Linked DNA regions of Homo sapiens. The protein of the gene in region 1 purifies or fractionates together with the protein of each later gene. This does not show direct contact. Each region holds a gene or a part of one and is shown in the gene's direction. Other genes may lie near its edges. The genes, in order: CCNG1, PPP2R5C, ZZEF1 and PPP2R5E.

The links.
Region 2: the proteins of CCNG1 (region 1) and PPP2R5C purify together in Homo sapiens (affinity purification with mass spectrometry; 4 studies listed by BioGRID and IntAct, with this or other methods). This does not show direct contact.
Region 3: the proteins of CCNG1 (region 1) and ZZEF1 purify together in Homo sapiens (affinity purification with mass spectrometry; 3 studies listed by BioGRID and IntAct, with this or other methods). This does not show direct contact.
Region 4: the proteins of CCNG1 (region 1) and PPP2R5E purify together in Homo sapiens (affinity purification with mass spectrometry; 3 studies listed by BioGRID and IntAct, with this or other methods). This does not show direct contact.

The regions. Positions count from the first base shown.
Region 1 is NC_000005.10:163,433,232-163,441,256, forward strand, and holds the start of CCNG1 (cyclin-G1), read left to right. Parts: upstream 1-4,363; 5' UTR 4,364-4,573; intron 4,574-6,025; coding exon 6,026-6,289; intron 6,290-7,846; coding exon 7,847-8,025. UniProt on the Homo sapiens protein: May play a role in growth regulation. Is associated with G2/M phase arrest in response to DNA damage. May be an intermediate by which p53 mediates its role as an inhibitor of cellular proliferation.
Region 2 is NC_000014.9:101,876,377-101,884,264, forward strand, and holds part of PPP2R5C (serine/threonine-protein phosphatase 2A 56 kDa regulatory subunit gamma isoform), read left to right. Parts: intron 1-5,784; coding exon 5,785-5,895; intron 5,896-6,880; coding exon 6,881-6,973; intron 6,974-7,055; coding exon 7,056-7,186; intron 7,187-7,888.
Region 3 is NC_000017.11:4,013,326-4,021,213, reverse strand, and holds part of ZZEF1 (zinc finger ZZ-type and EF-hand domain-containing protein 1), read left to right. Parts: coding exon 1-85; intron 86-1,444; coding exon 1,445-1,545; intron 1,546-3,242; coding exon 3,243-3,378; intron 3,379-3,483; coding exon 3,484-3,843; intron 3,844-4,439; exon of another isoform or gene 4,440-4,581; intron 4,582-4,747; coding exon 4,748-4,891; intron 4,892-6,698; coding exon 6,699-6,867; intron 6,868-7,025; coding exon 7,026-7,124; intron 7,125-7,599; coding exon 7,600-7,765; intron 7,766-7,888. UniProt on the Homo sapiens protein: Histone H3 reader which may act as a transcriptional coactivator for KLF6 and KLF9 transcription factors.
Region 4 is NC_000014.9:63,379,027-63,386,914, reverse strand, and holds part of PPP2R5E (serine/threonine-protein phosphatase 2A 56 kDa regulatory subunit epsilon isoform), read left to right. Parts: intron 1-2,343; coding exon 2,344-2,471; intron 2,472-4,757; coding exon 4,758-4,859; intron 4,860-7,888. UniProt on the Homo sapiens protein: The B regulatory subunit might modulate substrate selectivity and catalytic activity, and might also direct the localization of the catalytic enzyme to a particular subcellular compartment.

The DNA.
Region 1 (8,025 bases):
TGGCAAAATCAGAGAGGGGGATAAAAGAGTTAAAAGGCTAGAAAGATAAGGAAGGTAGTAACGTGAAACAAGGAAGGCCTTAAGTCCAATTCTCAACTCCGCCAAAACGTTTTGTGTACATGGGGTGTGTGTGTGTGTGTGTGTGTGTGTGTGTGTGTTTGGGTGTGTGTGTGTGTTTGCTTTTGGGGGAGGAAGGTTAGCAACCTAGGCAGAAACCTGGATAAGAAAGGAAATTGTTCTTGCCTTCCCATTCCTTCTCCTTCCAAAGCAGGAGACAACAGAGACACCTGCAGTGTTGGCTTCTGACTGGAGGACAATGACCCAGCTGATCCTTCTGACGTCTTACGTTCACAGAGAACAGCAGCCAACACATCCTGTGGCTCAAAAGCTGTAGCAGCATTTTTTATCTGGGATTACAAAATACAATGGTCTGGCACTTACAAAGTTCTCAAGAAATACTTGTTGATAGACAAACAAAGTAAACAGTCAACATGGGCAAAATGTTGATTATTGAAGCTGGGTAATGAGACTTAAATGTTCTGAAATAGAAACTTTTTAAAAAACTGCAGAAAAATCCAAATTCAAGTTTTGTGTGAAGTATATTTAGTAAATAGTAAACAGTTACTAAACATGAGATATATAAAATATCCCACATTTCTGAAGAGAATAAAAATATCAGAGTTGTCAAAGGCAGGTGTGTTTAAGTTCAGCACGATGACCTGGCACATGGGAAACATATAATAAATGCAAACCCTATATAGTACGTTTTTGGCTGGTCTTGGCTTTAAGCTTTGTACTCAACAGAGTCTAAAGCCATTAGAGAACAGAGGATCCCCCTCTAATGTGACCCAGTGCCTTTATATAGCAGTGGTTACTTGATGAGTCAAAAATTTAGTTTTTCATGAAATATATAGTAAAACCTCAATTAATTGGAAGGGGTTACTTTATCTGAGTATAGAAGTGGTAGCTAGAACCTCTGAGTAGAAGGATATTCATGGAATTGTTAATCTATGTTTTTTATGTATCCTTCTCTGTCTTTCTCCTCCCAACCATACTTAATTTCACTGGTGTCCCATAAACTAATAAAGAATTAAAGGAGCCACTGACAAGCAAGTTAACTTCAAATGAATAAGATAGACTAGATGCACTAGAGAACAGCTAGAGAAGTGGAGGAGGCTGTAATGCACAGTTACAGGAAGGATCAGAAAGCAGAAGGGAACTCAGCTGAGATCTTTTTGACCCTCACTTCCTTGGCCCTTATCATAGTTGGACAAGGCTACACACAAAAGTACCAGACATTTATTAGGGAGCCTGAAAAGAGGGTAAGGTGATTGGACATTGTGTGCAGGAGGGAAGGCACAGACTCCCACATCTCCAAGATGGAAACAAACAAAGCCAACCGGGAATTTCCCTGTGAGTCAGGGCAGTATTTGACACACCACCACTGTTTTATACCTGCTTGTTATAATCTTTGTTGTTGAAAGGCATGTCTACAGCCTACCATGCGGAGAATATGATTACATCTTCCCGTTACTGCCTGGATTCTTGCCCAGCCTCAAGGCCATTATTCTGACCATTAGTTCTTGTTGTACTTAACTGTTAATGGAGAAGAAGGTATGAGGATAGGAATTGAATACATCATTGAGCCTAGAATATACCCCCAGAAGTCAGTCATTTAACAAATTTTCAATAGGAATTCATGATTAAATCCACACTTCTTTAAAAATAAAATCATAGTTAACGAAGGGCTCATTATCTTTATTTTACAAGAGTGGATAACTGAGTATTACATTTCCACATTTTGCTAATTAGGTCTTTTCAATTATTTAAATGATGGTCTATATTCTAACATTTTGAAATGAAAATGGCAGAGGGGGTTAAGGGAGGAAGAAAAGTAAAGAATTTCAATTTGACTTGATTTATATTTAATTAATGTCTCTCCAGTACTAGTGAAATATTTTTATGTGAGAGATTTTAATAAAAAGTAAAAATATTCTAATGTACGAGAAAATACTGTATTATATAAACAATGATATATTACCTAAAAGCCCTCAAGTGAAAATTTCAAGTATAAAAACGTATAGAAATTAATACATGCAATTTAGATATTTTTATCTGTGTTAAATAAACAGTTCTAATACTCTGATTATCCTTCTAGGCTGAAAACAGAAGACTAGTCTGATAACAGAGAAAACACATCAAAGTGTGTTTAAGCAAGATATTTAAAAAGAAATAGTAATTTAATACTAAGGGCTACCATTTATCAAGAAATCTACTGTGATCTGGGAATAGTGACTACCTCTTTATGCACTTTCTATTATTTAATCCTCTTCATAACCCCATGAATAATGTATTTTTTACTTCTCATTGTTGAGAAAAGAAAATGTGATTAAATAACTTGCTGAAAGTCACATAACAAGTTATGAGCTATTCCTGGATATGAATATAAGTTTATTTTATTCTAAAGTCTATGTGTTTATATTGCCCACAGGTTACATGTTCTACAAGGACGGGTACCAGTCTAATTTGTTCTCCACTGGCCTATGCTATGTGTTCAATAAATATTAGTTAATTTATTCGTGCTTTTGATTGCTATAAAGAATTTTTTTTTTTTTAGACCAAGTCTTGCTCTGTTGCCCAGGCTGGAGTGCAGTGGCACCATCTCGGCTCACTGCAACCTCTACCTCCCAGGTTCAAGCGATTCTCCTGCCTCAGCCTCCCGAGTAGCTGGGATTACAGGCACGTGCCACCATGCCCAGCTAATTTTTGTATTTTCAGTAGAGACGGGGTTTCACCATGTTGGCCAGGTTGGTCTCAAACTCCTGACCTCAGGTAATCCACCCGCCTCTGCCTCCCAAAGTGCTGGGATTATAGGTGTGGGCCACCGCGCCCAGCCTGCCATAAAGATTTTATGATTTTTTAGCCATTTTTTTTAAAAATTGTGCATATACATTCCTAATTTTAGGAATTAGGAATAATAGGAACTAAAAGCCAAAAGGAGAAACTACATTTATAAACTCACACATTACAGCAAAAAGTATTTTTAAATAAAATCACTTGTTAAAGGTTATAAATTGCCAATTTATATTCACTAGGTAAGCTTTTATTTTCAAAAGGAACAAAGGCCTCTTCCCCATTTGAGCCCCAGTTTCTTAAACTGACCTGATTATGTGGCTAAGGTATTATTGTGAGGTATTGATGTTTTCTCCTGTTTTTCCTTCCCCTTCCTCCCCACCCCTTTTCCCCCTTTCCAGAGTTTTGTTCTGTGGCATTGCCTTGGGTAAGTACACGGCAGGGCAAATAGCAGAGTGACGGCAAATCTTTCAGATTTTCACTTTTTCAAAGTAAGAGAGACCGAACTGGGGCCATGAGAACAGAGACATCCAACTACTGTGTAATTCATAAGAGTTTAGAAATGACTCCTTGTGCACCCTTTTTCAGGCCCTTTTACAAATGGACTTTTCTCACTTGTGATGATCTGGGAGAGTGAGAGTGAGGAGAGTCTAAGAAGAGTTCAGGCTAATTATTTTCCCACTAATCTGGCATAGGAGAGGCTCACAGAGATTAAATTCATTATGGTAAATACAAAGAGTAATACTGCTTTACACTCGGGTCTGTAGACTGAGATTCACACTCACCACAATTATTCCTGTTAACAGTCTGCCACATACCTTTCATTTTAAGCAACTGAAAAATTGTACCAACTTTTCTCTTTAAATTTGCTTTAAAAGCAAATTCAGAAAATTGGTAGAGGGTCAAGAAATTACACAGTCCAACTCCATTATTTGATAAATTGTATAAAAAGCAAACTAAGGCAAGAATCAACTGACTTCCAAAGTTCACGAAGAGAGCACTCTGGAAGTTGATAAACCACCAAACCATATAAATTCCACCACCTCTTTATCTGTAATTAAAAATCAAAGGTTGACTTTTTTTTTTTTAACTACTCACTGTATTTTTAGAAAGATGGGGCAGAACCACTGTAGAACTCCTAAACCCCACAGAACAAACAGTACATTCTGGAATGATACGCCGGCCAATCCGGCTGGCAGCCGATTGACCTGACCCAGGCGAGGGTTGCTGCACCGAGTATTTAGTTTGGCCCCCTACTGAATGAAGACACTTTGTTAAATTCTCCAATGAGAGACGCTTAGAGGTAGGGGCGTGGAAGGGGGCCGGGGAATTTGAGGCCAGATAACGGGAAGTGTGAGCCGATTGGCCGGACTTCTCACTCCACGGCCCAGCCGTTTACGGATCGCGGAGGCCATCCATCAAAAGAATTACACCAATCAGCGGCGAAAATGCCCCCTTCTCGCGAGAAAGCCCCGCCCTCCAATATATTCCTCGTTAGGGCAGGCGCGGCCCCTTCGGCTCCGAGCTGACCCTGATCAGGGCCGAGTTGTCTCGGCGGCGCTGCCGAGGCCTCCACCCAGGACAGTCCCCCTCCCCGGGCCTCTCTCCTCTTGCCTACGAGTCCCCTCTCCTCGTAGGCCTCTCGGATCTGATATCGTGGGGTGAGGTGAGCAGGCCCGGGGAGGGTGGTTACCGCTGAGGAGCTGCAGTCTCTGTCAAGGTGAGTGGGACTGCGCGGGAGTTGACCGCCAGGTGCGGGTGGGGAGCTGGGTTGGGGGCGCGGGGCGAGGAGTAGGTCTGGCCCGCGCCCTTTTCCACACTAAACTCTACCGCTGTTGTGAGCACAAGCCCAGGCTAGTCCGAGGCTGGAGGGGCGGAGCCGGATCCGGCCTCCTGAGGTGCCTTTCGTGTCTGCCGACCCAGTCCCAGGGACTAGCCTGGGGAGGAAGAATGGAACCCCTGCAGTTAGAGGTTCCTCACATGACTAGCTCTGAAGACCTCCTGCCTTCCTGTCTTTAGTTGGTGTGGGAGGGACCTTCCATGTATCCAGGGCTTAGCTTGTGCCCGGGACATGGTTGTGTTATGCACACTTAAATCAATGGAATTCCCAGGTTCATCTTTCAGACTAGGTTAGCAACAACCCACCGCACCCCCCCGCCCCAATACGTGCTCCTAATGTCACCTTTTAAGTTTCCTTTCCTAACAACAATAAAAGTTAAGTAATATTGAGTATTGTGTGCCAAGCACTGTGCTATACTCTTTAAGTGGTGAATCATCTTGTTCAGTCTTCACATTCAGCGACAGATATTGTTACCCTCATTTTATAAATCTAGAAAGAAGCTCAAGCTCATTATTATTGTTCAGTGTTTTTTAAGCGTCTACTGTATGTGCTAAGCTCTTTACGTGATTTCATTTTAACTCACAAATCTGTGAGGTAGGTCATAAACCTTATCCCTACTTTATCAATGTGGAACTAAGTACAATTAAGTAACTTGAACAGTTCATTTTGTTAATATGTGGCAGAATACTTAACTACCATCTGCTTTTCACTTTCGGTATCCTGTCTTACGGTGTTTATTCGTGGTTATCTATTGACAGTGAATAACTTGAACAAGTATTTCTTGAAGATTTGCATTTTATTTTTCTAAAAAGCATGGTTCCGACCGGGCGCGGTGGCTCACGCCTGTAATCCCGGCACTTTGGAAGGCCGAGGCGGGCAGATCACAAGGCCAGGAGACCGAGACCATCCTGGCCAACATGGTGAAACCCCGTCTCTACTAAAAATATAAAAATTAGCTGGGCGCGGTGGCGCATGCCTGTAATCCCAGCTCCTCGGGAGGCTGAGGCAGGAGAATCGCTTGAACCAGGGAGTCGGAGGTTGCAGTGAGCCAAGATCGTGCCACTGTACTCCAGCCTGGCAACAGAGCGAGACTCCTTCTCAAAAAAAAAAAAAAAAAGCATGGTTCCTTCCCTCTAGGAACTCAATTTAGGATGTGACCAACTTGTAGAAGGGAAATAAATAACAGATGGCACTTTGCAATGACTTAGATGCACTAGCCGCATTGGGGGATGGGAGGCTTATAAATCATTTCTTGGCCCAGTGCAAAGATGGCCAAGGAAAGCAGGAAGGACTACTCTTACACTCCTTGCTGGTCTTTTTTTCTATATATAGATGATAGAGGTACTGACAACAACTGACTCTCAGAAACTGCTACACCAGCTGAATGCCCTGTTGGAACAGGAGTCTAGATGTCAGCCAAAGGTCTGTGGTTTGAGACTAATTGAGTCTGCACACGATAATGGCCTCAGAATGACTGCAAGACTAAGGGACTTTGAAGTAAAAGATCTTCTTAGTCTAACTCAGTTCTTTGGCTTTGACACAGAGACATTTTCTCTAGCTGTGAATTTACTGGACAGATTCCTGTCTAAAATGAAGGTATGTTTGAAGCTACATTTTTGTAATTTTGCTCAGTGTGTTTTGGAGATGGAATTGTTACCTTTTGGCTGGTATTCATAAACTTGACCTTTTTTTTTTCAGCACGTAGCCAAAACATTAATTTTGTCTACTACAGCATTAATATTTCTTATCATAATCAAGAGTAGTACATCAGGTATTAGACTTAAATTCTGAAATGAAAAATAGTCTAATATCAAGTAACAAATTGCAGTTTCCTAGTAAGAAAATTGGCTGTTTTTAAAAAACCCTTCTTGATAGGTTGGATTTGTCCATTTATTTACTATTTTTAGATATAAACAAATTTATTAGTGGCAGAAATTTATTAGAGGCTACATTGTGGCTAAGAATTAAGATATATTTGTTAATCACTACCCATATATAAAATTGTAAATGTTTTAGCCTTAGACCTAGTCAAGACTTGCTTATGCTTGGCATTTCCAGCTTCAGTGTACATGCAGTAGGGAGGAGAGTGTGTCTGAAGGAGGAGCAACTATTTTCCTATACTAGATAAACAAGACTGTCACTTTCAGAGCTTAACTGTTACAAATGCATCTGCCTTTCCTGTACACCCATGGTCACTGGAGGAAAATAAGATGATGTGACAATTGGAAGGAAACTCATATTTTAGTCCTCGGTATCTAACACAGTGCATCATAAAAAAGGACTTCAATATTTGTTGAAGATTCAAGAAATTTGCTTCAACAGACTAATTAAGCTCTTTAGACATTTCACATGTAGTCATTACCTTTGAATCTGTAAATGTTGCACAAATGAATAATATACAGCTATTCCTCAGGTATAATTCAGTCTTATGTGAGAATAAGATCGTTGCTCTTATGTACAAGTCATAATAAGAAAAATAACTACATTATGCCTTTAAAGAGGCATAAGTGTACTGCTGAAGAGTTTACAAGAAGAGAGAGAGCACAGAGATATTAATACTGGTAAAAGCTTAGTTTCATGTGAGCTGGAAGTAAACTGGATAAAGTTTTGACTGTGTCTCATACGGCAGACATTCAGAAAATTAAATGATAAAGATTAGTAGTGGATAGAACTCTTAGAGGCAGAGTAAACAGTATATGCCATAGTATTTTAAAACTGTTTTATATGTGTTCCCACAAAGACAAGAGCCTGGAAAAAATACAACATCCTGCAAAGAAATGGCTTATTTTGTAAATAAGCCATAAAGTATTTCAGTCCTCATATATCTTTGACTAGTTAACTTATTTGATCAAACTAGAACAATGTTTACTTATAGTTCTACAGTGATTAATAAAAACACACTTTTTCTATGCTGAGCCAAACATTATACTGAAACTCAGTCCAGTTACTCAAAAATTGGTTCTAAGTGGGGTCCATAGTGTTGACAGGCTATAGTTTAGGTATGAGTGGATTGTGTTAAGTCCATCACAGCTGAGAAATAAACCTCAAATATACATTTTCAAAATGTTGGGTCGGAGTTCTAGATTATCCTTTATGTTTTAATTGAAATAAGGTAGAGTCATGGGCTTACTGGTTTTGTTTTTGATTTTTTAGGTACAGCCCAAGCACCTTGGGTGTGTTGGACTGAGCTGCTTTTATTTGGCTGTAAAATCAATAGAAGAGGAAAGGAATGTCCCATTGGCAACTGACTTGATCCGAATAAGTCAATATAGGTTTACGGTTTCAGACTTGATGAGAATGGAAAAGATTGTATTGGAGAAGGTGTGTTGGAA
Region 2 (7,888 bases), on another chromosome or scaffold:
CCTTTCTTTCCTGTTGCCTCTAAAGTTAGACTGTCAGCGGTTTTTTTTTTTAATGTATCCCTTCATGTCTTAAAATTTTTATATGTTACACTGCTGCAGTTATGTTACGGCATAAATATTCACTCATTGGTAATGAATGATAACACATACAGAAAGGCTGCATGATATTGCTGAATTGTAAGAATTTTCCGTAAAGTTGCTTCTTGGGCCATTCTAGTTTACATCTAATTTAATAAATTTAGCAATTTGGAGAACATCTGCAGGACTGATGTAAGTACTGAAAGTGGAAGTGTCAGGGAGGCAGCAGAAGCAGGTGCTTCCTGATATTAACCAGAGACGGTCCTGGCACAGATGGGGCCGTGTGAATCACATGCAGACATACGTATGCACTCACGTGCGTGCCATTATTTTCATGTGGAGGTCAAACAGTCAGAAACGTTTGGGAAGTGCTGTGTAATGCTAACTGTTCGTGCATAATGTTTTCCCATTTAGTAAGTGCTGTTGCATGTGTTTTCTGTGATTCTCACCACAGCCCAATGCAAAAAATAAAAAAAGGATTTACGCTTTTTTTTTTTTTTTTTTTTTTTTTTGAGATGGAGTCTCACTCTATTGCCCAGGCTGGAGTGCAGTGGTGCAATCTCGGTTCACTGCAACTTCCACCTCCCAGATTCAAGTGATTCTCCTGCCTCAGCCTCCCGAGTAGCTGGGATTACAGGCACCCACCACCACACCCAGCTAAGTTTTGTATTTTTAGTGGAGATGGGGTTTCACCATGTTGGCTAGGCTGCTCTTGAACTCTTGACCTCAAGTGATCCACCCGCCTCGGCCTCCCAAAGTGCTGGGATTACAGGCATGAGTCACCGCGCCTGGCCTTTACCCTTTCCAATGGAGGAGAAAATTGAGGCTCAGGCAGGCTGTTTGGTCTGAGGTCCTTCTTCTAGGTGGGAAGAGGGTGTAGAGAGACTGTTTCCATGAGGCTGTGCTGCCTTTGTTGGGCAGCGTGATTCTGCGTCTGTGCCTCTGGGTGTGCGCTGGATCCGTAGGTCTCATTTGAGAGATCACAGTGACCCTGTGTGCTGCCCAGAAGACCCGGGACTCCTTAGACCTCAGAGCTTCTTTGGTGTTCACTGCATAACGTTGATGTCTTCTCTGTTTCCTCAGACCGGATCCATGCATCCAGGTAGCATGGCAGTGACATTTGCACACAGACATCAGCACCCCAGGTTTCTGTACCTGGGGCTCCTGCCCCTGATTCGCCCCTGCAGCTTTTGTGTTAAGAAATGTTGCTAGGTCAGAAACCCAAGAAGAATTTGAGGTGATAGACCGTTGGCCCTCTGTTCCTTCCCCCCGCCCCAGTATTACTTTTTACTTAACCTTTTCTAGAGATATGCACTAAATTAATGCAATGTAATGTGGTAAGAAAGGTGTGTAGAAGTTAGGAGTGCAAGTTTTTTTCCTTACACATGAGAAATGACTTTCAATCAATCAGAATTGGCCTGGAATGAACCTTCCCGGACCTAGGTCGGTCATCAGTCAAGGACGCTGTATCAGTCTGCTCAGGCTGCCGTAAGAAAATACCACAGGCTGGTGGCTTAAACCACAGAAATGTGTCTTCTCTCCATTCTAGAGGCTGGAAAGTCTAAACTCAAGGGTGTAGCAGGGTTTGTTCCCTGCTGAGGGCCTTTTCTGGCTTGCAGACGGCCACTGTGCCCTCCCATGGCCTTTGCTCCGAGCAAGTGCAGAGAAGGCGAGTGTGAGCCTTCTACCATCCCTCCTTACAAAGACACTAATCCTGGAGGGCCAAGGCCCCACTTATGACTTCATTCACCCTTCATTATTTTCTCTGAGGACCCATCTCCAAATCCAGCCACACCAGGGTTTAGGTCTTTAACATGAATGTGAGGAAGGGAGGCCACAAGCATTGAGTCCATGACAGACACTGAAAAGAGGACATTGTGTTCAGAGCAAGCCATCTGAGTCACCTTGCAGGCCCTCAGCTCAGCATCAAGGATTCAGTGAGTGTGCAGGTGTTTGAGACGGGGCCTAGCTGCTGGGCTGACTGTCACTGTGCGGGAGAGCTTCAACTGGAAACCCTAATCACTAGCTTTCCTGCTAGTAGAAACCACCAGTTTACTTAGGAATCTCAGCTGACTGGGTGCCTCAGTCAGGGCTGTGCAGAGAAACAGCAGGAGAGACAGAGATTGAGATCTCAAGGACTTGCCTTCTGCAGTGGGTGAGTCCAGCGGGCAGGTCTGGACTCCGTGGACAGGCAGCGGGCACGAGACTTGGCCGTGGTGGACACTGCAGGCCGCAGGTGGACTCTCCTCAGAGAAGCTGCAGTTTGGGTCTCACAGGCCTCTCAGCTGACTGGTTGAAGCCCCCACATTCTCAAGAGTGATCGCTACTTGAAGTCCATTGATTATAGGTGTTAACCACATCTATAAAATGCCTTCACAGGAACACCCACAGCAGTGTTTGGACAGCTGGGCACTGTGGCCTAGCCGGGTTGACACATACGGCCAGCTGGCACAGTCGGGGACATTTTACTTTTTTTCAGTTATCGCCTTTAACCACGATGGGTGAAATCACACTTTCCTGTGCCTAAATAACATCTTAGGCAAGTTGGTTAACTTCTTAGTCATCCCTGGTCACAGAAATCCAATCTAGGTTAAAGCTTTCATCTCAGACCCTCTGCAAATGGCATCTAAGCCGCACCCCAGGCAGCCTGGCCAGGGAGGGACATGCTGTGGGAGAGGAGGGGAAGCAAGGGTGGCTCCGAGCCCCTCTTGCCCGCCCTCCCCCGGGGCTTTGAGCAGAACCCAGAGCAGAGGGGAAGGGCAGCTGCCTGTTCTGCTCAGTTGCTCCCTGTGGCCTCGGCCAGAATGGTGGTCTCTTCCTCTGTGGCATGTCTGTGACTCTTGGGCAGCAGGCCTCTTCCAGAGGGACGGCTGTTTCCTCTCCCCCAAGACCTACAGCCTCGTCTCTGGGTGAGCTGACCCCTCTCTCCCTTGGCAGCTTCCTGGGCGGCGTGGCCCTACGGCTCCTGCTCTGGCCTCTGTATCCCTGATGGGCAGCCCCAGAAACCTCGGAAGCAGTGACCGTGCTTTCCTTCCAGGCGCCATGGTTCCTCAGGCCCTGATGTCACAGGCTGTTCCCAGAGTCTCCTGCCAGGCATAGTCCTGTTCACAGATTCCTCTGCCACCCAGAGTTCGTGCCCAGGCTCTGCCCTCCCCACACTGTGCTCTGCCCCTGTCGGCACCAGGCCGGGCCCACAGCTCTAACCCACCGAAGAACAAAGTGCCATCTCCCTTTCCTGAAGGTGACCCTGTCCTGTGGGTGACTGGACCCTCACCCCAGTCTCTTGGCTTTGAGAGAGAGGGTAGAAACCCCAGTTCACGAATGCCACACTCCCCGTAGGAGCTAAAGACTCAATTCAGACTTTCCTTTCTCTGCCCTTCATGGCCCTGGAAGTTATGGAGAGCTTCAGCAGTGGCTGCTAATGACAGGACCCTGGGAGGACATGGCGGCCTGCCCAAAGTGTGTGTGTGTGTGGCCTTTCCTTAATAGTTGAGCTTTTAGCATCTGCTTGTTCACGTCTGTGGGCTTTGGGGTCAGGGTGCCAGGAGGGGCAGACTAGACCCCTGTCTGCGCCGAGTGCCTGTGGGCCAGCAACTGAGGCAGGGCCGTCCACCTGTCAATCACCGTTCTTTGGGAGGCTCCTTGCAGTGCCCTATACACACACTAGCTTCACAGAGGAGGGGACAGTCCCTGGAGAGTAGACATTGCCAGAAATTATAACACCAGTGAGAGTCAGGTTAACTCTCGGTTTTAGATTGCAAACTTTTGTCTTTGTACCTATGTCTTAGGAACATTACTCATACTTTTACTAGAAGTGTTTTTTAATTAGTTGTTCCTGGCTTTTCAGCCCCTTTTTTCATCCCTGCGTTTCTACAGTATCCGTGAAGGCCATTACAGTTGGTCTTTACGTCAGCTCCCCTCTCAGATGACACAGAGAACAAGCTCAGATGCTTGATACTCAGATGCTTGATGCTCAGAGCTTTTATAGCTGATGACTTTCTGAAAAATGATATTAAGGTTTGGAGTTCAGTATCAATACCAGTAAAGAAGGGAAGAAACAGGCAGGTGCGGTGGCTCACGCCTCTAATTCCAGTACTTTGGGAGGCCGAGGCAGGAGGATTGCTTAAGCCCAGGAGTTTGAGACCAGCATGGGCAACGTAGCGAGTTCTTGTCTCTGCAAAAAATAAATAAAATTAGCAGAGCATGGTGGTGCGTGCTGGTAGTCCCAGCTACTTGGGAGGCTGGGGCAGGAGGATCGTGTGAACCCAGGAGTTGGAGGCTGCAGTGAGCGATGATGGCCACTGTACTCCAGCCTGGGCAGCAGAGAGATGCCCTGTCTTTAAGAGGAAAAAAGAAAAGGGAAGAAACAGCAGTGGTGACATTGAGTATTAGCTTGGTCTTTACAAGACTGGGTATCTAAAGCCAGCCAAGTTTGCCCTGGACTCTCTAGAAACATCTTCTCGTTGTTATCGTAGAGTCAGATTTTAATCTTTTATGTCAAAGGTTTTGATTTTGTGCTTCTGAGAGTGGTGGGACTGGGGTTGTGATCACCTATAAGAGCCATTCACCAGAACCCAGTTATATAACTGGCATACGATCCGTTCAGAGATTCAATAAGGTAACCAATCATATTTAGACTTAGTATAAAAGAGGGTTGGGCATGGTGACTCACGCCTGTAATCCCAGCACTTTGGGAGGCTGAGGGGAGCGGATCACTTGAGGTCAGGAGTTTGAGACTGGCCTGGCCAACATGGTGAAACCGTGGTGAAATCCCATCTCTACTAAAAATACAAAAATTAGCCAGGCATGGTGGTGCACGCCTGTAATTCTAGCTACTCGGGAGGCTGAGGCACAAGAATCACTTGAACCCGGGAGGCAGAGGTTGTGATGAGTCGAGTTCGCACCACTACACTCCAACCTGGGCCGCAGAGGGAGACGTCACCTCAAAAATAAATAAATAAATACATAGATTTAGTACAAAATAAAAATAGGTTATAAATGTATGACATGGAAACAGTAATCTTTTCTGTTTATGTCACTGATCTGTCAGTATGTGTTATACAAGTCCAAACAGACTGAGAGAAATCTAACAGCCCATGCCTGGGCGCACAGCCATGCTGCCCCTACCGATCCTCTGTGCCCCTGAGCAGTCCTTTCTCTGGAAATGATCTTAGCTGCCGACTCAAAGGTCGTCCCACTCTGACTGTTGCTTTCCTCATCGTTGCGGATTGCAGAGGATGTTGGTGCCATTGTCACACGGGTCCTCCCTGCGTGACGCAGCCCTTGCCATTTCCAGCATTTTCAGCTGTGAATCTCTGCTGCGTCTTTCGTCATCTCATCCCTTTCTTACTCTCATTTTGAGCATTCTCCTTGGTCTTGCACCCACTGGATAGTATAAGACCTCAGAAGTCATCACTGTGCCATCAGCCTTTGTTGGTGTTGGTTGTCATTCAAAGTTTGACAGTCAAGAGTCCAAGTAACTTTGGTGGTCAACTTGCGTGCGCACCTGTCCAAAGTGATGTTTCCTGCTGCAGTTTTGATCCAGGCTCTCTCTGAGGACCCACACAGCTTCTGCGTTTTGAGGATACGGAGGAGCTAAGTTACCATGGGAAGCGGCTACTGTTAGAATTACCTAAGACTTTATAAAATGTTGTCTGTAAATATTTTAAATGCCCTGATTGTAATTATAGAATATGTGGATTTTAGTTTGCAGTTAACATGTTTCGAACATTACCACCTTCCTCCAATCCTACGGGAGCGGAATTTGACCCGGAGGAAGATGAACCAACGTTAGAAGCAGCCTGGCCTCATCTACAGGTATCGGGCTCTGGGTGATAGACTCGGAGGGCACTGGTGACACATGGGAATGGCCTGGGATCCACAGAGCGGGCGCACTGGTCTGGCCAGATGGACCTCTCCTCCTCAGTAGCATGGGCCTCGTAAACCCATATGTACAAGAAAAATATTTCAGCAGAATAAAGTTAATGTGTGTGTTTGACCACTTTACAACAGCCAGTGAAGATGTGTAATTGTGAGTATGTTCTCAGTGAAGATGGCCGCTGTGTTGATGGCCGTTGAATTGAATTCAGGCCCAGAGGTCCTAAGCCAACAATCTCCCAGTTTTTGCTCCTCATATTTAATAGGTGCCTGCTGGGCCCCCAGGTCCTGCGCTGGCCACTGCCTTTCCCCAGGGCATTTGTAAGGCAGAAGGTTGGTTGGCAAGGAGGCGCCAGGGTCGGCATGAGCAGAGCGGGGGCCAGGTGTGCGGGTGGGAGGGCCATCCATCCGTGACAGGCGGCCCACGCTGTCCCACCCAGCATGTCTGCACAGGGAAAGAATTGTCCCAGCTCCAGGAGGTCATGATTCTGGGTCCACATCTTAGGGCCCTCTTACCTGGCAGCCCCAGAGTTCCTGTGTATTTGGTTGGCTCTGCGCCTTGGCATTGTGGGACACTCCTAGGCGACAGGCTGCAAATCCCCCCTGCAGAGTTGGGTCATGGCTTGGTTTGTGGCATCTGTGCCCTGTAGTCCCTGAACAGTGTACTATAACTGATGACATCAGCCATGGAGATCATTTTGTTTAAATGCCGTTTAAGGGTGTAGTCTGTGGGTTTCACCAAATAAAATAATTACCATCACCATTTATCATTGAATTAAGCCATGTAATTTAGCATTAATTCTGTAGATATGTGGCTTTGAGAGGCTAATATTTGCATACCAATAAAGATTCAATTTCTGGTATATTTTAACCGCCATTCAATAAAATCTCATGTTATTTGACTCATTGTTTTTTTTCCTCCTAGCTTGTTTATGAATTTTTCTTAAGATTTTTAGAGTCTCCAGATTTCCAACCTAATATAGCGAAGAAATATATTGATCAGAAGTTTGTATTGCAGGTAAGGTACAAATTAGCTGACACTCTGAAAGCCCTGATGGAATGATGACACCCAGCCACTAAGTGTCTTTTTCTTCTCAAAGCTTTTAGAGCTCTTTGACAGTGAAGATCCTCGGGAGAGAGATTTTCTTAAAACCACCCTTCACAGAATCTATGGGAAATTCCTAGGCTTGAGAGCTTACATCAGAAAACAGATAAATAATATATTTTATAGGTAAGTCACGTGTGGATGGCGTTGTCCTTGTGTGTGGTGATGCTCATTTCCCCCCTCGATGCTCCCCTACCCCATCGTCTCCTCTGACAGGACTCAGCATGTGGAGGGGGTTTCTCAAAGCCTATTTGTCATGTGCAGGTGGACCCCCTTGTGCACTGTGTGCAGGGGGCTGCTGGGCTCATCCTCCCTGCCTTCCTCCCCTCTCCCCACAGCTCCCTCCTGAGCCACCAAGCTCCCCAGCGCCTCATCCTGGGTCCCTCCATTGTTCCTGTTTCTACTGAAAGGTCAAGTTTCCTGGAAATGTGGATGAATTGGTTCCATCCAGACCAACTGTATTAGTGAAGGTTCTCTAGAAGGACAGGACGCATAGGATAGATGAATATATGAAGGGGAGTTTATTAGGAGAGTTGACTCACACGATCACAAGGTGAAGACCCACAATAGGCTGTCTGCAGGCCGAGTCCCAAAACCTCAAAAGTAGGGAGACGGACAGTGCAGCCTTCAGTCTGTGGCGGAAAGCCCAGGAGCCCCTGGCAAACCACTGGTGTAGGTCCAAGAGTCCAGAAGCTGAAGAATTTAGAGTCCAATGTTCAAGGGCAGGAAGCATCCAGCACAGGAGAAAGATGGAGGCCAGAAGACTCAGCCAGTCTAGCCCTTCCACGTTCCTCTGCCTGCTTAATTCTGGCCGCACCGGCAGCTGAT
Region 3 (7,888 bases), on another chromosome or scaffold:
GCCAGTCAGCAGCCCTGGCGACCCAGAGCAGAAAAAGCTGGACCCCCTTGAGGGCCTGGATGAGCCCACCAGAATATGTTTCTTGGTGTGTTCTTGAGTCATCTTGTGGCTTAGGAGGGGCTTCTGAGGGATGGCTTCTCTTTGGCCCGGGCCATGTTTTAGCCTAAACATGAAAATGCTTCTGTCTGCTGTCCTGAGAATTCACTTCCTAAAGACTCAGTCTTATGTTGTGCAGAATTGATCCAGAAGAACAGAAAAGCCCCACAACAATAGTTCTTAATATTTTGGGTTATAAACTCAAAAGCTTTAGGTCCTCTCTCCCCATAAAATACACATTCAAACATGTATGTAAAATTTTGCACGAATTTCAAGGGCTTACTAAAGCCCTAAGGCTCGTCCATGAACTCTATACGATAGTTCCTTCCTCATAGTTTCTCAGAAATACACTCTTACCTTTACTAGGTAATCTATTCTTCCTCAGAACAATATGAAAAGGATGAGGGCTTGGACTTCAGAAGTTGTGACTAAATGAAGAGTAAACAGAATGTAGCGTAGAATGTCAGAAAAAGCAAATCCCAGCCAGGCACAGTGGCTCACACTAGTAATCCCAGCACTTTGGGAGGCTGAGGCAGGAGGATCACTTGAGGCCAGGAGTTCAAGACCACCCTGGGTAACTTAGCAAGACCCTGCCTCTACAAAAAATAAGACTAGCCAGGTGTGGCATGCGCCTGTAGTCCTGGCTACCCAGGAGGCTGAGGCAGGAGGATCACTTGAGGCCAGGAGTTCAAGTTTACAGATTTTGCAGGAGAGTTTGCATCCCCTGGCACAGAGCATACATGCAATTCTGTATCCATGAATAAGTAAAAGCTATGAATCCAGTTGGCAAAATACAGAAAATGATGATGTCATTGATACTAACAGAAAAACTACTTTGATCAACATTGCTGACAAGTTTAAGTGCAGGTTAAAACTCCTCTTGCCTTTCTACGCTTTTGGGTACTCAGTGGTATGAGCTATGATCACACCACTGCACTCCAGCCTGGGCAACCAAGTGAGACCCTGTGTCAAAAAAAATCAAAAGAAAATACAGTGCCTATGTATGCGCTAGTTGTCAAACTTGAGTGTAAAACAGTTATAGAGACGCTAGCCGTGAATACGATGTGGTAAGTATCTACTGTCAGCATTGTATTTTGTTGACAGGATATTTCTTTGGGGTTTTAGTGTTTTATAATTTCCTTTGAAGTTACAGTCGTAGTGTAGGTGTTATAGTCCATGTTTTGGTGCTTACAATTTTATATGCTTTTTAAACTACCCATATAATGTTCCTCAATTATAACCTGTGGCAGCTTTTGCTATATTGTCTTCTCAGTTTTGAGTTCAGTTGATCAATACCGTATTGAAGCACTGTTAATGGTTCTTGTCTGCGTCCTCCCCTGGCCTCCAGATGGCTCATGATGCCCTCAATGCCCCTCTGCACATTCTCCGGGCCATATACGAACTGCAGATGAAAAAGACCGATTATTTCTTCCTGGAGGTTCAGAAGAGGTAAGGGACATTTCCGTGCAGCTGAAGTGTGGCCAGGGAGAGAATATGTGAGGGCGGGAGGGTGTGCGCCTCCTGGCAGCAGCTTCTGGATCGATCGACGCTCCGACAGGCCGGGAAGCAGTTGCTAGTCCTTTGTAAGGCGAGGTGGGAGGTGGCCTGTGCTACGTTACCTGGATCATCTTCAAAGTGCACTGTGGTTCCTCTTTAAAACTTATGTTTGTAGTCGGCCTCTGAGAGGAAACTCATTTTACAGACACAGAAATTGGGCAGGCACCAAGATGTCTCTCATGTGTAATCCCAGGGAGCAGACAGCACAGAGCAGGAACTTCTGCTCAAGATATTTTTAAAATTAAGAACATTCCCTTTCTCTTGGCCAGGAAGTTCAGAGCTAGTTTTTGGGCCCAACTTTTTAATTTGCGTAGAACTTTACATATCTGCAATCCAGTCTCCTCCATCCCCCGTATCCTAATTTTGACTTCTTACTCATTGTAAATTCTCATTTAATTTTTCTTTTATTTTGTGTTTCGTGTTTCTCTTTTATTAGTTTCTTATATATTGCCTAAAAGCCTTTATGAGGTGAAGCAGGGTTGCATTAGTTAGGGTACAGTCTAAGCTGCGGTAACTAAGAAACCAGAAATATAATGGATCAGGGCAGATAGAATTTGTTTTTCTCTCACATAACAGTCCAGAGGTAGGCAGAGTCTGGGGTGGGTGACAGCTCTGCTCCACAGAGGGACCCAGCAATCCCAGCGTTCTCATTTGTGGAGTGAAAGCTCCCTCGGCCACCCCACCTCTCGGTTCTAGCCCAGAGGAAAGAGGGGAGGTGGAGAAGGGAGTGCACCATTAGTCCAGTAGACTCCAGAGGTGGCACACCACCTCGCTCACCTGCACTGCCCAGAACCCAGGGGCATCAGCACATCTAGCTGCTAACCATGTCTCTAGCTGGGTGACTGTGGCTCTTGCTAAAACTCAGGGAGCTTTAGAGAGAGAGAAGGGCCACCGAGTTTCGGCCAGAGTCGTCCACCTGTTCAGACTGCGTTCAAATAAGGCAAACACCAGGCTGTAACCATTCCAGCTGTTTCTGTACCTCACTTCTGTTTTCTGTGTGTCAGTTTCCTTTTTCTGTTCGTAAACCTCCAACCACAGCAGTGGAGTCACTCTGAACCCATTCTGATTCAGGAGCTGCCCAATTCGGGGATCACTCTTTGCTCATTTAAACTCTGTTAAATTTAAAAAAAAAAGGAGAGAAGGGGAGTCCAGGCATGGTGGTATGAGCCTGTAATCGCAGCTACTAGGGAGGCTGAGGCAGGCAGGAGGATCGCTTGAGCCCAGGAGTTCCAGGCCGGCCCGGGCAACATAGCTCCAACACGTCATCTCTAAAAAAAACAAATAAATTTTTTTTAAAAATGTTTTTTTAATGAAAATAAAACATTTAAATTAATTTTAAAAATGGAAAAGATAGAAAAGGAGAATGGATTTTGCAGGAGAGTTTGCATCTCCTGCCACAGAGCATACATGCATTCTGTATCCATGCATAAGTGAAGGCTGTGAATCCAGTTGGCAAAACACGGAATATGATAATGTCATTGATACTAACAGAAGAACAACTCTGAAGAACATTGCCAACAAGTTTAAGTGCAGGTTAAAACTGGCCTGTCTACACTGTTGGTACTCAACTTTGTGCTGCCCTTCTGCAGGTTTGATGGTGATGAGCTCACCACAGATGAAAGGATACGGTCCCTGGCTCAGCGGTGGCAGCCCAGTAAGAGTCTGAGGCTGGAAGAACAGAGCGCCAAAGCTGTGGATACAGACATGATTATCCTGCCATGCTTGGTATGTCACCCGACCTCGGACCCAAAGTATCTGCACCCCATCCCCCACCCCATACCACCACTGTAAGAAGGCTAGACCTCTGTAATGGTGGTCTTGGGTTTGCAGTCCCGGCCTGCACGCTGTGACCAAGCCACTGCTGAATCGAACCCTGTGACCCAGAAGCTGATCTCCAGCACAGAGAGCGAACTGCAGCAGAGCTATGCCAAGCAGCGCCGTAGCAAGAGCGCCGCCCTCCTGCACAAGGAGCTGAACTGCAAGAGTAAGAGGGCTGTCCGGGACTACCTCTTCCGAGTGAACGAGGCCACAGCTGTCCTGTACGCCCGCCACGTGCTTGCATCCCTGCTCGCCGAGTGGCCTAGCCACGTGCCAGTGAGCGAGGACATCCTGGAGCTCAGTGGCCCTGCCCATATGACCTACATTTTGGATATGTTCATGCAGCTGGAAGAAAAGCATGAGTGGGAGAAGGTAGTTATGCAGACTGAGCTTGTGCTCACCCACCAGGTTCTTCCTCTGCCCCACAGGCTTCCTCCAGTGAGTGCTTCCTGGAGCGAGGCTACCTGTGTGGCTGTGCAGCTCCCTGACAGGTGTGAATGCAGCAAAGGTAGGGTCACTGTATCCTCTCCCAAGGATTGGGCTAGTGAGGAACTCAGGGGCCCTGAGCGCGATTTCCAGCTGAACCAGAAAGCTTTGTCGCCATCTTCCCAGTTTCCAAGTGCAGAAATCTTGAGGCACATTCGGTAGCTCCTTTTTGATCCTGTCCCTCACCCACCTTCACACACACACACGCAGTCCATGAGGAAGTTCATTTGGCCTCTCAGCCTTGCTTTGTCCATCTGAGAACACCACCAGACCTCGAGGTCTTTTCCCGGCCTTGCAGCCCTGCAGGTGCTGGCAGGCTTGCTCTAGCATATCTATCTTTCGGAAGGGACAGAGGGAGCCACCCTGCCTCTACTAGGCCCTTGCATAGGCGTGTCCTCCCACAGTTCTTGCCACCTAGAGCTCCCAACCCTGCACCTCACTCCAGGCATCGATTACATTGTGTGGTCATTATTTATCCATAGGCCAATCCACCTGCTTGGCTGGGGACTCCTTCAAGGACCAGGACCCTTTATGATTGGTTCAGTTAGTTCTTTCAGACCACCTCTAAGTAGCATCATTCTGAAAGGACTGCAGTGTCCTGATTGACACCAAGAGCCTGGTCAAGTGAGAGGTGGCTGGTGGAGTTGGTTTTGGGTGGTGGAGTCACAGAGGCTCGTCCTAGGTCTAAGATGATGCCAGCACCTTTGGGTGGAGCTTGGGTTGAAGTAAACTGTCCCTTCTTCCTGATGCCACTTGCAGGCCCTGACCTTATCTGTCTGCTTCCCACCAGATCCTGCAGAAAGTGCTCCAGGGCTGCCGAGAGGACATGCTGGGGACCATGGCCCTGGCTGCATGCCAGTTCATGGAGGAGCCAGGAATGGAGGTGCAAGTGAGGGAGTCGAAACACCCGTATAACAACAACACCAACTTCGAGGTAAGCCTGGGGCCGGCAGGCCCCATAAGAGCGACTGAGCCGCAGAGACCTCGTCAGCCCCTCCGTGCTCAGCCCCTCCATGCTCAGCCCCTCTGTGGCTCTCTCCCGCTGGACAGCAGAGACCTGTCCAGGAAAGTGCTTCCTTGAACAAACTGCAGTCTGCCTCCCTGAGGCCAGGGATTCTGTACAAGCAAGTCTTCTCTTCTCCGGACTTTTCTTGTTTTAATAGAAGAAAATGGGCCACCTAGCCCTGGAGGAGAGCTTTACTTTCCCTGCGGCAGGCTCCTCAGAGTGAGTCCTTGGCTTCACAGTGAGACAGTGAGTCTGAATGTGGTCCAGGTTGGACCCTCACTCTTCAGCTGCCACCTCATGACCTGCCCCCACCGTGGATACTACAGCCCCTTTTTAAAATTTCCCAGAACTGAATCAGAGTCTCATCTTTTCCATCCTTAACTTTGTGCCTGGGCAGGGAGGTAGGCATTTTGATGAGGCAGGAATGGGGCAGCCTCCGTTATTCTCATTGACTTAAGGCCATGTAGTCCCTTTAGCACTTTTTTTTGAGACGGAGTCTCACTCTGTCGCCCAGGCTGCAGTGCAGTGGTGTGATCTCGGCTCACTGCAACCTCCACCTCCCGAATTCAAGTGATTCTCATGCCTCAGCCTCCCTAGTAGCAGGAATAAAGGCACCTGCCACCATGCCCAGCTAATTTTTGTATTTTTAGTAGAGACGGGGTTTCACCATATTGGCCAGGCTGGTCTCTAACTCCTGACCTCAGGTGATCCACCCGCCTTGGCCTCCCAGAGTGCTGGGATTACAGGCGTGAGCCACCTCACCTGGCCCCCATTAGCGCTTTTAAAAATGTTGGAGAGAAAACTGAAATGTTGGAGTTGCCCAGGCATCTACTTCTGAGTGGAAGGCACCTGCAGCAGCGAAGGTGGATGATGAAAACCGATTTAGAACTGGGTTATTGGCCAGCTGAGATTTTGTTTTTCAGAAGTATAACCTGTCTTTCTTCCAAGTCTCTTCTCTTGTCATGTTCCTGGGCTCCAGCCCCACTCCCTTGGTCCCATACAGGCACATGTGGTCAGCCACCAGGTTCGATCCCAAAGAGGTCTTGTCTTCTCCACTGACCCTGGACACCCGTTGCCCTTCTCTGGGGTTCCTTTTGCTGCTACTTTCTGATTTCCTCACTTTTGCCTCAGCCCAGCCTTGCTCCACACCAGCTGTCAGTGATGCTACACTGTGCAAGCCTCACCAAAGCTTTCCAGGGTTTTCCCTGTTGTCCAGAGTCTGAGTGCCTCATTTTCATGCCCAGGGCCTTCAGTGTCTGCCCCTGCCAGTCTCTCTGGAGTCAGGTCTTGTCCCTGTTCCTGCTTCCCAAGCATACGTGCCCATGTAGCACACCCTTTACTCCAAACACGCCAAGCTCCTTGCCATTCCCTGAACATGCTAGACCTTCACAGGGCTGTTACCCTGTCTGAAATGCACCCCATGCACTCAGGTCCACCTTGTCTCCCACTCCCGCCTTCTCCTAACAGGGTCCTCCTGTCCTCTTCACTCTTCACAGCAGCCTGACACTCTTTCTCTGGGGCCCCGTGTTGCCTGCCCCGCTGTGCCTCCCTCGCACCATATTTGCAGTCTGTGCATGCTCCTCGCCCTAGCTGGACTCTGCACTCCTGGAGGCCAGGGCTGTGGTTCACTCATTCTCACACACCCGGGTCCAGCCACAGGACTCGGCATGGGACAGCTGCAGTCAGTGTCTAGTGAGCAGCATCGACAGATGTGTTCTCCATTTCCCCTCCCTAGGATAAAGTTCACATTCCTGGTGCCATCTACCTCTCAATCAAATTCGACTCTCAGTGCAACACAGAGGAGGGCTGTGACGAGTTAGCCATGTCCAGCAGCAGTGACTTCCAGCAAGACCGACACAGCTTCAGCGGGTCTCAGCAGAAGTGGAAAGATTTTGAACTTCCAGGTAGTGAAACAAATACTCGATTAGATAGGTTCTTCACAGGCAGTGTTTAAACTTAATATTGAGAAGGGAACTTACTGGAGAATGTTGAAACCCAACACCACTGCTGCCATTCCCTGTTGCTTCAGTTCCTGATGGGCCTCTGATCCTTGTGTGCCTAGGAGACACTCTGTATTACCGCTTCACCTCCGACATGAGCAACACCGAGTGGGGCTACAGATTCACCGTGACGGCCGGACACCTGGGGCGGTTCCAGACAGGTGTGTGCTCTGGGCTTTGCGTTCACACCATCTGCCTGCCAGGGACACTCCATGGCTGTGGGTGCCATGATGTCACTGATCTTGGTTAAAATCAAAGCAGGTACTTGTCTCTCACACTTTCCAAATTTGTCTCACAAGCCCCACACCTGTCACTCCTGAATGTGATTTCATTGGCTAGTTGTAAACTTGAATGGCCAGCTATGAGAAGCATTCTGTCAGGACCCGAAAAAGATGCTTATTCTCTTAGAATTTGCCAGGGCATTTTGAAAAAAGGAGGAACTGGAAATATGACCCCTGTGTTATTTTTACAAAAGCCTTAATTTCAGCCAGAATTTAAATGATCACAGTTATTAAAATTTGAGCAGTTTATAAAATGTAGAATTCTTAACGTACACAATTGTTATACTTTATTTAATAATAATATTACTTATTACGTATCTCTGTTTATATATCCGTGTTTTGGGGTGTTGGCCAGGATTCGAGATTTTGAAGCAGATGTTGTCAGAAGAAAGGGTCGTGCCTCATCTCCCATTGGCAAAAATTTGGGAATGGCTGGTGGGCGTGGCCTGTCGCCAGACTGGCCATCAACGATTAAAAGCCATCCACTTACTTCTGAGGATTGTGCGATGCTGCGGCCACAGGTAAGCGGTGTCCCGGATGGCAGCCCTTTGCCAGGCATATGTATCCCCACTCTGTGGCTGGCCCTTTCTTGCTGTTAGTGGTGACTTTGATGAAAAGACATTTGTGGCTTTAATGTCTTCCAG
Region 4 (7,888 bases), on another chromosome or scaffold:
TCTTGCTGTGTTGCCCAGGCTGCAGTGCAGTGGTACAGTCACAGTTCACTGCAGCATCTGCCTCCCGGGTTCAAGCGATTCTTGTGCCTCAGCCTCCCGAGTAGCTGGGACCACAGGCATGCCCCACCATGCCCAGCTAATTTTTATGTTTTTAGTAGAGATGGGGGTTTTACCATGTTGGCCAGACTGGTCTCGAACTCCTGACCTCAAATGATCCACCCACCTTGGCCTCCCAAAGTGCTGAGATTACAGGCATGAGCCACCACACCCAGCCCCACCTATGTTACATTTCTGCCACCCTTCTGTTTCCCAAGTCATCTGGATTGTTGATTCTGCTCTTTTCCCCTCCTTCCCCTGACACTTTATTCATATATCTGATATAGCATCTGTCACAGTTTACATTGGATAGGCTTGTAGATGCCCCTTCTCCCACCAGTGTGCGAACTCTTTAGGGATAACAGAGTAAAGAGGTTAAGAATAGAGACTTTGGAATCTGCCACTTACTAGCCATGTGACCTTGAGCCAATGGCTTCTCTGAGTCTCAGATTCTTCATCCACAAAATAGAAAAGTAATGGTACCAACTCTGTTGGTTGTGAGGAAATGAGATATTATATATGTGGGACACTTAGCACAGTGCCTGGCATATAGTGAACATGCAGTAATGATTGTTTTCTTTGTACTCTCAGGGTCTGGTGCCTAATGAGTCTCAGGGTTTTGTTTTGTTTTTTGAACCAAGCTGAATAATGTAAATGGAAAAATTCTGTTTTCTCAGTGTCTTTCGGTAGATACATCTTATACCATTTTGTTCTCTTCTAAAACAGGGCTTCTTAATCTGTATAAATGAAGGAAGCCACCCCTTTTTCCCTTTTCCCCTGTAACTACCCTTTTTAGAGATTTTAGGTTTTGTTTTTGAGATGTTCTTTTGAATTCATGAAATCCAAGATGAGCCAATCAGGCCCAGCAGACCAAATTAGAGCCAGTTGATAGCATGGTGGGCAGAGAAAAGGGATCTAAGAGAGCAGAGAGGGTAGGTGCAGCCAGTGTCCCTGAGACCAGAAACTGAGCAGACATCTCCTGGCTTGCACAGGAAGGGACCAGAAACAAACTCTGGAAGAAGCCCTAGAAATGAGGCCCCAGTCTTTACCATATTGTCAGTGTAACCTTGCCTACATTACTCAGTCTCCCTGAGTCTCTGTGTCCTCACCTGTAAAATGAGCACAATGGTATCTCCTTCTGGGATGGTGGTAAGGATGATACATTCTACTTGCTGTGTAGGCACAGTGCCTGCCCATAGGAGGTACTTAGTAAATATTGGCCGCTCTACAGGGATGAGCAACTGTGGGTGTTCCTCAGTAGCTGTGACTGAATGCTAACCATATGCTGGGCCCTGGGTTCGATCTAAGTGTGTGTGATGAAAAACATAAGAAAGGGGACCAGTGAGATGTGCTAAAGTGATGTCAGGAAAGTGTGGAATCAGATGACATGGGCAGAATTAGAGAAGAATATAAATTAACAGGAAAACTTCTTTTCCTTCCCTGAGTCGATGAACCACTTGAACCACTCTGGACTTTTTTTTTGGTGGGAGGAGAAGACACGGTCTTGCTCTGTCACCCAAGCTGGAGTTCAGTGGCATGATCTCCACTCACTGCAACCTCCGCCTCCCAGGCTCAAGCAGTCCTCCCACCTCAGCCTCCCAAGTAGGTGGGACTATAGGCACATGCCACCAATCCCGGCTAATTTTTGTGTTTTTGTAGAGGCGAGGTCTCCCCATGTTGCCCAGGCTGGTCTCAGACTCTTGGGCTCAAGTGATCTGCCTGCCTTGGCCTCCCAAAGTGCTGGGATTACAGGTGTGAGCCACCGTGCCTGGCCCACTTTGGAATTTTCCAAGAGATTAAAAATCCACAAACATTTAAAATGTGGGCCAGGCACGGTGGTTCACGCCTGTAATCCCAACACTTTTGGGAGGCTGAGGTGGGCGGATCACGAGGTCAGGAGATCGAGACCATCCTGGCCAATGTGGTGAAACCCCGCCTCTACTAAAAATACAAACATTAGCTAGGCATAGTGGCATGTGCCTGTAATCCCAGTTACTCGGGAGGCTGAGGCAGGAGAATCGCTTGAACCCGAGAGGCGGAGGTTGCAGAGAGCCGAGATCGCGCCACTAGCGAGACTCCCATCTCAAAAAATATATATATATTAAAATGTGATTAATATTTAATTTTACCTCTAATTGAATGATTTACAAATAGCCTTTTGAAATACTTTTGTTTGGAAAGATTTATAATTTTGTTTTATCTTTGTCTTTTTCTCTCTCTTAACATTTTATTTTTCTTTTCCCAAAGGTGGCAGAAAGAGCACTCTATTATTGGAATAATGAATACATCATGAGTTTGATAGAAGAAAACTCTAACGTCATCCTTCCCATCATGTTTTCCAGCCTTTATAGGATTTCAAAAGAACATTGGAATCCGTAGGTTTTCAGTTTCTTTCCTCCGTTCTCTTCCTCCCTTCCTCTCTTTCTTTCCCTTCAGCCTTATTATGTGCCAGATGCTGTCCTTGTTGCTGAAGACGTATGTGAAAAGATAAAATCCTTACCTTCTGGGGATTCACTGACTGGAGAAAATAAACAGATACTTTAACAAAATACCGGTTAAAGTATCTGTTTACTAGACAGGCTTCTTGATCTGTCTATGAAGGTAGCAGATCTTTTGGGGAGGCACTGCAGCTGAGAGGAGAGGTGTGTAGATACTGACAGCATGGCCATGCTTAGACTGAATCTGAAAGGAATTTGGCAGGTGGATGGCATGGGGAGAGCCCTTTCAGACAGTGGGTCCATCCATCATGTTAAAAGGCACAAAGATGTAAAAAGCAGCTGTCAGTTTCTGAGACCTGTGAGTTTGGGAGGGCTGAGGCACAAGGTCTTTTGGGGAGGGTGCTAGAGGATGTGGCTAGAAAAGACTGTGGGACTCGTGTGAGCCTTCACCAAGTAGATGATGAGGAAGTACTGAAGGGTTGTTAAGTGGGGAAGTGGTCTGACTAGGTTTTCATTTTAGTGTGATCTATTTAACAGCCAACTCAGTCGCTATATGTATCTCTTGGAAAGGAAGGAGTTTAAAATCATCAAGGGAAGTTTAACATCCAGCCCTATGAAAGTTAAAGCATTCTGAATTTGAATGCCTTTACATTTTTCTCTGTGGAATAGAAGGAAAATTTAATGTGGTATTTAAAAATTGGGAGATACAATTCAGTATATTCATAATATGTTTATCTTTAAAAATTTTGCATGTAATTATAAAATATCACATTTCTAATTTTTCAAATTTGCCTAATTATATTAATAGAACTTGTAAAAATAAGGAGCTGATAAACAGTTAAGTCCCTTTATACAGATAGTCTCTTGAGGACCTAGAGAACGGTTCTAGCAAGTGTCTGTAACTACTCAGTATACTACATTTGGTGCTTTCCCATCACTGCCCTTGGGAGGAAGGTCATTCTGGAACCTTAACAGAAAAGAACTTAAATTTTCCTTTTAATGGCACAAGGCAGAAGCTACACAGCAAGTGTACTTTCTTGTAAATGTTTTGGAAACATCAGACTCATGGTTTATTTAATATATGGCTAATTTTTACCAATGCATTTTTCAGTGGTATTAGGAGCATGTTTGTTGCAAAACGGAAGCAACGGATATTTTTGCAAAAGGAAAAGCTATTTAGACTCTAGTCTGAAGCTATCAAGCCCATCATAACCTTGTCCTCACATTGCCCAAGAGCTAATTCTTGTTAAGTATGGGCTACCATTTTGGCTGTTTAGCTGTATAGTGTCCCATAGCTAATAGCAACCATCCCAGCTTGCCAGTTATCAGCATATATTTTGGGTCAGCAGGACTGGTGCAGATCAGAGCTAGACAGATAATTCATATTGAACCACCCAACCTACATGAGGGCTTGATTTCATTTCTTTGGATAAGAATAATTTATATATATACACATATATATATAACATTTGTTTCTAGGGAAGTAGCTTCTGATTTTGATGAATTATGTGTTATTTAGAAAATAGAATTCTATGCAAATTCAGATGTCTAAGGTTAGTGCTATCACAGATCCTTATTTTAGGGTGAAATTGCTTTACTATTATACTTGCCTTTTTATTAAATGAAATTATCAAATGCCCACAGGCAGCTCTATTCTGGGTGCCAATAATTAGAAGGGCAGGCCAGGTGTGGTGGCTCACGCCTATAATCCCAGCACTTTGGGAGGCCGAGGCAGGCAGATCACCTGAGGTTGGGAGTTCGAGACCAGCCTGACCAACATGGAGAAACCTCGTCTCTACTAAAAATACAAAATTAGCCAGGTGTGGTGGCTCGCTTCTGTAATCCCAGCTACCCAGGAGACTGAGGCAGGAGAATTGCTTGAACCCAAGAGGCGGAGGTTGCGGTGAGCCAAGATGGTGCCATTGCACTCCAGCCTGGGCAACAAGAGCGAAACTCCGTTGCAAAAAAAAAAAAAAAGAAATTAGAAGGGCAAAGTTAGATTTTTTTTCTAGTTCTACCACCCCTCAGAAAATTATCTTGCCTTGAAATCTCTTGATGTGGAAATGAACTGTAGGTCATTTTCAGTTGTTCCAACTAAAAAAGGATACAGACAGTGTGCAGTACGAGAAATCATTCAGACAAAAGTTGTGCTTTTGCTTTCTTCATTCAGTATCCCATTTTATAAGACTAACTAACACACTCCTTTTTTTCTGTGCTTTCCAGGGCTATTGTGGCGTTGGTGTACAATGTGTTGAAGGCATTTATGGAAATGAACAGCACCATGTTTGACGAGCTGACAGCCACATACAAGTCAGATCGTCAGCGGTAACTTTTTAAAGCTTTTTTGTCAGCTGTGCATAAAGCTATTGAGTTTTTTCCTTGCTCTTTGCTGAAGTTGCCTAATTGTACCCCAAATCTTAAGCAGCACAATTTTGTTTACAGTCATGCATTACTTAACAACCAGTATATGTTCTGAGAAATGCATCCTTAGGCAATTGTATTGTGTGAACATCATAAGTATACAGTAATTACACAAACCTAGATGGTGTAGCCTACTATGACACACCTGAACTATGTAGTATTGCCTGTTCTTCCCAGGCTACAAACCTGTGGTGAATACCGTAGCCAATTGTAACACAAATCACTAGGCAGTAGGCCTTTTTCAACCCTGTTAAAATTTTATGGGACCACCGTGGTATATGTGGTCTGTGTTGACCGAAATGTTGTTATTTGGCACATGACTGTATTTATATATTCATTTTTGCACACTTATTAACTGTGTCTTTATTTATTTATTACTGTGCCACTGAGTAACAAAGCTTCCTGACACTCATTTTGATAAAGCCCGCTTTCTTTCCTTTCTTTAATAATATTTCACTTCTGCCTCAGGGTTAAGAGCCCAGCATTTAACTGGTATTTTAGGTTCACTTAAAGGGACCATCAGGTAGTTTGCTCTCTGGGATTCACTCCCACTCTGAACTTACTTGAAGTATAATTGGGCAGATCTTGTACTTCACTCCAATAGCAGGGGGAATGAGGCACCATTTATCTAGCTCTTGGGCCCAGGACTTACTAGAACCCAACAAATTTATTACAATTTAAAGATCAGTGAAAAGAACATGAAGGTTAATAGTCTGGTATTAACCAGAAATGTTTGAGACCATATGGGAGAACAAACCAGTGGAACTCTTTGCAATAAATGCTTATGGCTTAGTAAAAATCTTGTCCAATGCATTCTACTTTCCAAAAGATGTACTTGGGGAGATTATAGAAGTCTAGAGAGCTCTTAGTAGTTGCGCCTGTGGTTTGGCTTTGATCATCCATAAGCAGATGTCAGCTTTGTATATCATAAAGCTATGGACCTTAGAGGACCCAGAGATGTGTGCGAGTGTTCATACCCAGGGTCTTGCTGAACCTCTCTGGTTCCCTTGGTGCTTTGCTTTGTCTCATTTTTAGTCTGTCAACTTGCATTTTATTGATAAAAAGAGCAATGAGGGGAAAGGTTTGATGGCAGAGGGACCATTGCAATGATTTTTTTGTTTTAAGTTACCAGGGATGTGGTTTATGAAAACCAACTTAATTATGGAATGTGGTGAGTATTTAGCTGAGAATCTCAGAAGAGGCTGGGATTTTTTACCCAGAATATTGGGATTATTATCAATTATGGGATATGTTATTCCATACTCACAGTTTAAACAACTTTTTTTTTTTTGTTTTTTGAGATGGAGTCTTGCTCTGTTGCCCAGGCTGGAGTGCAGTGGCGCGATCTCAGCTCACTGCAAGCTCCGCCTCCCAGGTTCATGCCATTCTCCTGCCTCAGCCTCCTAAGTAGCTGGGACTACAAGCACCCGCCACCACGCCTGGCTAATTTTTTGTATTTTTACTAGAGACAGGGTTTCACTGTGCTAGTCAGGATGGTCTCGATCTCCTGACCTCATGATCCACCTGCCTCGGCCTCCCAAAGTGCTGGGATTACAGGCGTAAGCCACCGCGCCCAGCCCTAAACAACTTTTAATTCAGTATATTAGCGATTGTTGCAAATTATAAATTTATGATAACCCTCCTTGCCCCAAACTTAAAATCTTTAAAGGATGTTACTTAAAAAAACGGCCAAGGGTACATTTTAATACTGTGTTGCATCGTTAAAGGTGCTTTGTGCATAACATCTTCTCTGAAAGCACATTATTATTATCCTAGTTGAACCAGGATTAAATCCGTAGAATCTCATCAAGAATATTGAAGAACTTGGCTGGGCACGGTAGCTCACGCCTGTAATCCCATCACTTTGGGAGGCTGAGGCGGGCGGGTCATCTGAGGTCAGGAGTTCGAGACCATCCTGGCCGAATGGTGAAACCCTGTCTCTACTAAAAGTATGAAAATTAGCCAGGCACGGTGGCATGCGCTTGTGGTCCCAGCTACTAGGGAGACTGAGTTGGGAGGGTCAGTTGAACCCGGGAGGTGGAGGTTGCAGTGAGCTAAGATCATGCCACTGTACTCCAGCTTGGACATTGGAGTGAGACTCTGTCTCAAAAAAAAAAAAAAAAAAAAAAAAAAGAGAGAGAATATTGAAGAACAACTTATTTCCACTCAAATTATTTGGTTTGTATTTAGTGAACTTCAATAATAAAACTATTTTCTGGTTATTATCTAAACTAAATAGACTAAACCCTTGAAAAAGATGAGAATTAACTAAGGGGACCAGGAATAGATAAAACTATTATTTTATCTATTCCTGGTTGAGGTTGATTATGATATTCTGGCATATTACAGTTATTTATAATGAGTGTACTTTCTTAATGAGAAAATGGGGGCCAGGCGTAGTGGCTCACGCCTGTAATCGCAGCACTTTGGGAGGCCAAGGCAGGCGGATCACCTGAGGTTGGGAATTTGCGACCAGCCTGACCAACATGGAGAAACTCCATCTCTACTAAAAAATACAAAATTAGCCGGGCGTGGAGGCACATGCCTGTAATCCCAGCTACTCAGGAGGCTGAGGCAGGAGAATCACTTGAACCCGGGAAGGGGAGGTTGCCATGAGCAGAGATTGCATCATTGTACTCCAGCCTGGGCAACAAGAGGAATCCCAGCTCTTTGGGAGGCCGAGGCGGGCGGATCACGAGGTTAGGAGATCGAGACCATCCTGGCTAACATGGTGAAACCCCGTCTCTACTAAAACTACAAAAAATTAGCAGGGCGTGGTGGCGGGTGCCTGTAGTCCCAGCTACTCGGGAGGGTGAGGCAGGAGAATGGCGTGAACCCAGGAGGCAGAGCTTGCAGTGAGCCGAGATTACACCACTGCACTCCAGCCTGGGCGACAGAGCGAGACTCCGTCTCGAAAAAAAAAAAAAAGAAAA